Regions from separate parts of the Homo sapiens genome. Here region 2 is linked to region 1. Evidence: fine-mapped expression QTL. A gene starts in region 1. The other region holds a variant in brackets. All regions are shown on one strand. Distances are from middle to middle.

Region 1 (4,397 bases):
GGTGGATCCCTCATTAATGGCTCGGTGCCATCCCTTTGGTGATAAGAGAGCTCTTGCTCTGCGTTCACACATGATCTGGTTGTTGAGAAATGTGTGGCACCTCTGCACTTCCTCTCTTGCTCCTGCTCTTGCCATGAGACATACTGGTTCTCCATCACTTTCCTCCATAATTGTAAGCTCCCTGAGGCCCTCCAGAAAGGAAGCACCATGCTTCCTATACAGCCTGCAGAACCATATGCCAAAATAAAACCACTTTTCCTTATAAATTACCCAGCCTCCGGTTCTTTCTTTATAGCCATGAAAGAACAGCCTAACACACCCTTCCTTCCTTAATGTATGTCAAAATCAATTCCAGATGAATCAAAGATATAAGCCTTTGAAAATTAAGCCATTAAAAGAACTTGGAGGAACACTTATGCAAGAAGATTTAAGCATCTTAATGCAGAAATGGTTTTTCTAAGCAAGTCAAAAATAAAAGACTGATATATTTGAATACATCAGAGCTAATACTTTCTTCACATATATACCCTCAAAACAAACAAAGACAAAAGATAACAAACTGGGGAAAAATAATTGTTACACTTCATGAAGGCCTAGATTTTATTATAAATAAAGTGTTTTACAAACAAATAATGAAAATACTAATAACTCAAAAGAAAAATAAAGACCACAAACAAGCAAACCACAGAAAAAAATACACAAATGGCTTTAAAGAAATGGGATATACAATTTCCAGGATATCAAATGAAAGAAATGTAAATTTAATAAAACACCATGTTTTTATCTTTGAAGTTGGCAGAAATGACAAAGTTTGACAATATTTAGTGTTAGCCAATATGTAGGGAAAATCACACTGGTATATTCATATAGTGGGAGTGAAATTTTCATTTTTTTAAAGTAAGCCTCATGGATCAGCTGGTCTTTAAGAGTGGTCCAGCATTTTATGTCAGTGTGGAGGACAACTTGGCAACAGCTATCAGAATTTTCAGTGCACATAGTCTTTAGCCAGCAACTCTATTCTAAGATTTTATTCTACAGATAAGAAAGCACAACAAAGATGTGTATGAGATATTCATGCAAAAGATCAAAAACAATCTAAATGACCTTCAACGGTAGACTGATGAAATAAGGTTTGGTTCATATCCATAACAGTTGACTACATGGCCACTGAAAAAGAAATGTGCCAGTGTCAAATATCTCTTTAGTATATGAAATATACACTATATTAAGTGAAATAAGCAAGGCACAAAAAGACAAATATCACATGTTCTCCCTTATAACAAATATCACATGTTCTCCCTTAAATGTGGGAGCTAAAAAATTGATCACATGAAGGTAGAGAGTGGATAGATGGAGAAAAGAGACTGGAAAGGGTGAGTTGCGGGGGAAGAGGAGAAGTGGGTTAAAGGGTACAAACACACACTAAGATGGAAGGAATAAATTCAGTGTTGGATAGTAGAGTACGGTGGCTGTACTCAACAGAAATCTATTGTACTCAGGCAAACACTCTCAATACCCTGACTTGATCACTACTCATTATATGCATGTAACAAAATGTCTTATGTACCACATAAGTTTGTACAAATAAAAAAAGAAACATGTTGTAATAATCTCAGAAAAAAAAAGGAAAGACAAGAAATATGCAAGGCATGGAACAGAATACATTGTACAAACCCATTTGGTGAGGAAGAAAAGACAAGTTGGATCAAGATAAACAGAGAGGTAGGTAACTAGACAGGCAGACCGACGGACATAGCTGAATATGCATGGACCACTTCAGGAAGGACTCACGGAAAACCTCTGGGGGAAGGAAAAAGGAAGTCAGTAGGCCGACTTTTCACAGGACCTTTATGTATTATTAGAAACAAATTTACCATCTGCACATATTACTTTTTAAATTCAAAACTCAGTAAAATTTTTTAAATGATCTAGTGTAATGCAATGTAGCCTTCGAAAAATTCTCTGTAATAATAATAACAATGTTAGTAAAAAATAGTAATATTTTTCTATTTGGTTAATGCTTTCATTACTAAAAGGCATAATATTTTAAATGAACACCAGAATATGAAAGAATAACTCAACAATTCAGAAGTGAGGCAGGTTTAGTCTTTTAGGTGGGAAGAAGCTATTCAACTTTAAAAGCCTAAACTTTATTTATTAAGAAGTATATTATTTTAAAAACATGGGTACCAAGGAAACCTGGGCAGTCTAAGTTTATCTGTAGCTAGAGCCACTCCCTACCCATCCCCAACAATGTATTCAAATTCAGTGCCAAAAGTTACTTATTAAACACAAGAGATATTATGTCCGGGGGGAAAACTGTTGTAAACTTTGCCTGTAGGAGGACTGATCTCTTGATGAAATACAGAAAAACCATCTCAGAAAAAGGAAAATGGGCAATCGTCATGTAAGTACTCATTGCCTTTGGGAATTGGTTTTAATTTTGGTTAGCATGTGGAAGAATTTAAACTATAAAATCATGACTGATACTTGTATACTTTATCACTATGGTTACCCTTTAATATTGGTTTTAGCAACAGCATACCATGCTTTTAAAATGCATTGAGGCCGGGTGCGGTGGCTCACACCTGTACTCCCAGCACTTTGCAAGGCCAGAGTGGGCGGATTACTTGAGGTCAGGAGTTTGAGGTCAGCCTGGCCAACATGGTGAAACACTGTCTCTACTAAAAAAATTAAAAAAAAAAAAAAAGTTAGCTAGGTGTGGTGGAACATGCCTGTAGTCCCAGCTACTCAGGAGGCTGAGGCAGGAGAATCATTTGAACCTGGGAGGCGGAGGTTGCAATAAGCCGAGATTGCACCACTGCACTCCAGCCTGGACTACAAGAGTGAAACTCCGTCCCAAAAAAAAAAAAAAAAAAGCACTGGGGATATATTATTCCCTTATTGGCCAAAAATCTCTTAAGAGGGGCTAAAGAGAAAGAAGTATGTAAAATAAGGCAGTAAATAGTGCCTTGCAGAGAGCAAATGGTTAATATGTATCTGTAGAATGTATAACTAAAGCTGTTAGTTTGTAGCAAATTTGTATAAAACTTCATAAACTAAGCCCATTCAGAGTTATGTGGGAAAGATAGGTTCATGTTGCAAATATTAATAGACCAAGGTAAATACTCATGTAAGTCCACACAACTTGGATTGCAAGGTGAAAATATTCCATTATTATTTCTAAACATCCACATATTTGCAAATATCCATGGAATGGACTTAATAATTTACATTTCTTTTGAAATGTTTAGGCTCCTGAATAGTGTGTCTATAAATAGTTAATGACTAAAAACTGACTAAAACACTACCTTTTGGAACCAACTACACACAGGACAGATCAGAGTTGAATCTTGAATATTTTTTACATTGAAGTATATCTAAAGCTATTCCAATACAAATCTTAATAAGGTTTTGTGTACCTGCTGTAAATTTCCACAGCAAGAATGATATATTTCATGCACACTATGAGCAGAGAATAAAACTCCAAAACTTTCTGTAAACTGTTACTTTGTCTATAAGGTTTTTCCTTCGCTATATATTCAAGCTGCACTCAGATGTTTACAAACTTACAAATATATTCTTAGGAAAGGCATTGTTTTTCAAATCATCTACAAATAGCATTTTCATACCAGCAGAGATTATGAGCCATCCGTTCAGTGTATCTTTCAGAGAAACTGAAGCCTATTTTTCAAATATTTCTGATAGATGCAGAGGACCCCAGGAATAATCAATGGACCCTGCATTCACAGCTTAGGAGGATAATTTTGTCTTTTGAAAGTCAACCTAGGGAGCAGCTGGCCTTTAGGAGTGGACCAGCATTTTTATGTATTTTTTTTTAATCCTCAGAGCCAGTCGTACACCCTCTCAGAAGGCAGTCAACAGTTGCCTAAAGGGGACTCCCAACCCTCGACAGTCGTGCAGCCTCTCAGCCACCCATCACGGAATGGAGAGCCAGAGGCCCCACAGCCTGTAAGCACTTTATTTTCCCCCCAAATCATAGGTATGACCCCTGCTCTGTCATGGGGCCAATATGAGCCCCCAGTGATCTGTCATGTTGGACCCTCCACCAGCCACCAGCCATCATCAGGTGTGACTTCCAAGCAGGGAAATCTTTCCCTGCAAAAAGTTTGTTACTGTATTTACAGGTAATGTAAAAATGAACTCTTCTAGGGGCTTAGTTTCTGTTCCCAACAGTGTCTCATTAACAACTCCTTGAAATCAAGCACATGAGGCTACACCAGGACCACTATGACATTTCAGAAAATAGTAAAGGAACTCAACATGTGCACAAAGAATGAATACATGTAAAAAAGTAAATACAAAATCTTTTTAAAGAACAAAAAACTATCCCAGTAATGGCTTAACTTATTTGCATTAGAAAGTTACTTGAATAT
Region 2 (4,397 bases), 56 kb after region 1:
CACAGCTGGTCGGGTGCAATGGCTCATGCCTGTAATCCCAGCACTTTGGGAGGCCGAGGTGGGTGGATCGCCTGAGGTCAGGAGTTCGAGACCGGCCTGGCCAACATGGTGAAACCCCGTCACTACTAAAAATACAAAAATTAGCTGGGCATGGTGGCACACACTTGTAGTCCCAGCTACTCAGGAGGCTGAGGCATGAGAATTGCTTGAACCCAGAAGGTGGAGGTTGCAGTGAGCCAAGATGGTGCCACTACACTCCAGTCTGAGTAACAGAGCGAGACTCGGTCTCAAAAAAAAAAAAAAAAAAAAGGTCACAGCTAACAGTTCGGGATATGGGGCCACAGACAGAAGGTGGTACAAAATAAAGGGGAAGTGGCATTTCATCGGCAGCAGGAGAAGCCTTGGGGAATGAAGTGGAACTAAGCACTTGAAAACCACAGACATCTTCCCTCAAAAAAAAAAAAAAAAAGTGGTTAAATGAAGGGGGAGGTGAAGGGGGAGGGACACCAACCCAAATTCTGATCCATGGCTTCTTAACAAATAATGCTTAACATCTGACACTGTTTTTAAATATAACTTTGCAACAAGATGGTTCTTGCTTTTTTATTTCTATTCCTGGAATTTCTCCTCCCCTCCTTTCTCCTCCTCCACAACTCATCTTTTTCTATTGAAGGCCATGTCTCTCTCTCTCCCCTCTTTCCCTTTGCCAGTCTCTCTGCTCTGCTCCTGCCATGCCTCTGCCTCTCTCCTCCATGGCTCCAAATCCCTCTCCCTCCTTTCTCTCCAGGTCTTCTGCCTTGTCCGTCCCTCTGTCTGTTAGCAACTCGACCTCCAGCCAAAGTCACTGAGAGATGAGAGATCTTGAGGGACTCAAAAGGGACAGGTTGAACACAATGAAGACCCAGGATTCCAAATGACCCCCAGAGAGACTGGATCCATCCGAAGGGCTTGTGAGGGTTCCGTGATCACTCCGACATGGCCCACGGAGTGTTTTATTCCAAGAAGCTCTGTCCCATCTCAGAATCAACCACACGTCCTGGGCCATCTCAACATGTGGGCAGTTACCTCAGAAGGCTTCAGGCCTGGCTAGATATAGTAGTTTGGCCAGATTTCCTAATCTCCCAAAGCCACAGAACAGAGCCCTGTGCACCCCATCCCTACCCACCCTCCACCTTCCTGCCCGTGTCCCAGCACGGGGCAAGGAGCCAAGCAGCGGAGCAGGGGGACACACAGGCTGGGGGAGAGACAGACACCACCTGTCTCCTGTAGTGTCTGCCACCTGCTCCACATCCACTGCAAACCCTCCCTCACTCCCCCACATACTCCCATCCTGATCATTTCTCTCACTGTCTCAGCTCAGCCCTCTCACTGGGGCAAGAGAAGAAAGAATCAGATCCCTGAGCCACACTTTTTGGGTCTGGAGTACAAGGTAGGGTCTAAGCCAAAAAAGAAAAGAAAAGAAAGACTCCTGGTTAAAAAGAGTTCTCTGCTTCTTTTATGAGATCCATTATGTTCTACCTGGAATTACATCTTTTCTGGTACAAGTATCGTCTCCTTTGCTAGGCTGTAAGAATCTTCTGGCAGAGCAATCTTTGGATTTATTTTTCTCCTGAGTCCTATCATCACTTCTAGCACCTGGGTTTTTCAAGCTTCCAATAAATTAGATTCAAAATAAATCCTACAAGTTGCTAGTGATTTGAGTTGTGTTGACTGGTACTAATATCCTTGCTAATCATGGTATGAGGGAAAAACTGCTTAATTGCTTAATTCCACATCTCTGTGTTGACAATTTTCTTAGTTTTATACCAGGGGTCAACCAACTACAGCCTGCAGGCCAATTCAGGCTCACTGCCAGGTTGTGTACAGTCCTGCTAGCTTAGGGCAATTCATTTTCAAATAACTGTTAAAACTCAAAAGAAAGATAATACTTTGTAACATGTAAAAACTGTATGAAATTCAAGAGTTTTAGGGCCAGGCACGGTGGCTCACGCCTGTAATCCCAGCACTTCGGGAGCTGAGGTGGGTGGATCACCTGAGGTCACGAGTTCGAGACCAGTCTGGCCAACATGATGAAACCCCCGTCTCTACTAAAAATACAGAAAAAAATTAGCCAGGCATGGTGGTTGACTGTAATCCCAGCTACTTGGGGGGCTGAGGCAGGACAATTGCTTGAACCCAGGAGGCGGAGATTGCAGTGAGCCGAGACTGCACCATTGCACTCCAGCCTCGGCAACAAGAGCAAAGCTCTGTCTCAAAAAAAAAAAAAAAAAAAAAGAAATTCAAGAGTTTTAGTGGAACACACACACACGTGGACACCTCTGCAACCTTTGGGGAATTGACCTCTGCCTTCCCTTTCCTGATCACAAAATTGAAATAACGTGATAAAGGAAATAATGATAGGAAATAAAGCCCTATCTCAAGGGCTGTTTTAAGGCATGAATGAGCAAATGAGTATAACATGTGTAGAACAGTGCCCACTGTTTGTGAACACA[C/T]CATAAACGTTCTTATCTCCATTGCTGTTATTTTTTCTACAGGTGGACCTTCAGGGGATCAAAGCAAAGTTCCAAGAGAAGTATCAGAAGTCTCTCTCTGACATGGTTCGCTCAGATACCTCCGGGGACTTCCGGAAACTGCTAGTAGCCCTCTTGCACTGAGCCAAGCCAGGGCAATAGGAACACAGGGTGGAACCGCCTTTGTCAAGAGCACATTCCAAATCAAACTTGCAAATGAGACTCCCGCACGAAAACCCTTAAGAGTCCCGGATTACTTTCTTGGCAGCTTAAGTGGCGCAGCCAGGCCAAGCTGTGTAAGTTAAGGGCAGTAACGTTAAGATGCGTGGGCAGGGCACCTTGAACTCTGGCTTAGCAAGCATCTAGGCTGCCTCTTCACTTTCTTTTAGCATGGTAACTGGATGTTTTCTAAACACTAATGAAATCAGCAGTTGATGAAAAAACTATGCATTTGTAATGGCACATTTAGAAGGATATGCATCACACAAGTAAGGTACAGGAAAGACAAAATTAAACAATTTATTAATTTTCCTTCTGTGTGTTCAATTTGAAAGCCTCATTGTTAATTAAAGTTGTGGATTATGCCTCTATCAGCTGCTTTTCCAAAGATTGTCTTGATAAGTTTGGGCTCTTCTCTGGGAAATGTATGACTTGTGAAATTCAAACCTACATTTTTTAGTGGTCACTAATCAAGGCTAGTCATAAGGAAACAATTCACTTGCTTTTGTAAACTGTAACTAAGGGTAAAATTCCCTAATCTGCTACCTGGTTTAACTGGGTTTTCTTCTCTAGACATTTGACCCACTTGAGTCTTCCCTCTGATCTTCAAATACAATTAAGCTGAGCAAAGTGCCAACAAGATCAAGATCAATGGTCTACCTCTGAAGTGAATTGGTTCCACACCAATAGATTCTGTGTTCCAAAACTTTAGTCTCATAGCCACGTGTTGCTAGACATAGAGGGATCTGTCAAGAGAACCTGGACACTTTGGCCCAATAATCATAGTTGTCATTCATTGGCTGATTATTTGTGCCTGACACTGAGTAGTCCAATTTCATTCTTAATCCTCCCCACAGCTCTATGTGGTTAATATTACTCCCAATTATCAGTTGAGGAAACTGACACATTAAGTAACCTATCTAAATTCATTTACAAGTGCTGTTTTCACACTGCTATAATTACCGGTAAAAAATTACCAAGACTGGGTAATTTATAAAGAAAAGAGGTTTAAGTGACTCACAGTTCCGCAGGGCTGGGGAGGCCTCAGGAAACTTACAATCATGGTGGAAGGGGAGGAGGCACGTCTTATGTGGCAGCAGGAAAGAAAGAGTGGTGAGCGAAGCGGAAAGAGCCCCTTATAAAACCATCAGATCTCATGAGAACTCCCTCACTGTGACGAGAACAGCATGGGGGACACAGACCCCATGATCTAATCACTCCCACCAGGTCTTTCCTGGGGATTACAATTGACACATGAGGATTACAATTTGTGATGAGATTTGGGTGGTGACATAGAGCCAAACCATGTCAACTAGCATTTCAATCCAGGGCTGGCTGACACCAGGAATCATGCTACTAACTGCCTTAATTGGAAAAATCAGTTGAAGTACATGGGAATGGGTCTGTATTCATTCATCTGCTTAGTTCCCTACTATCTGCCAATCACTGTGGTGTGCTCTGAGGATACAAAGACAAGTAGAACACTGACTCCCCTTGGGGCAGTTCATTCCCAGGTCAATAATGTCTCTTTTATTCAATAGAATGCTGTAAGTGCATTAATAAGAGCAGTATATTTGTTCATTTTCACACTGTTCATTTTCACACTGCAGTAAAGAACTACCTGAGACTGGGTAATTTATAAAGAAAACGGGTTTAATTGACTCACAT

The links. PIP is the estimated chance that this variant, and not a neighbour inherited with it, causes the effect. A credible set is the group of variants that fine-mapping cannot tell apart.
Region 2: its variant is the best candidate, but not a certain one, in a credible set for the expression of ANXA13 in tibial nerve (GTEx, PIP 0.67).

Annotation. Positions count from the first base shown.
Region 1 is chr8:123,735,330-123,739,726 of GRCh38, reverse strand. It overlaps ANXA13 (annexin A13), which reads left to right and starts at 2,334. Exons shown (of 11, transcript NM_004306.4): 1 at 2,334-2,407. The coding sequence starts at 2,393. All of the region lies in intron 1 of LOC105375739 (a long non-coding RNA gene), which reads right to left.
Region 2 is chr8:123,679,497-123,683,893 of GRCh38, reverse strand. It overlaps ANXA13 (annexin A13), which reads left to right. Exons shown (of 11, transcript NM_004306.4): 11 at 2,535-3,100. The coding sequence ends at 2,654. Among named protein-coding and RNA genes, the nearest start is that of KLHL38, 28 kb to the right of the region's middle. The variant C/T (reference allele first, on the strand shown) is at 2,493.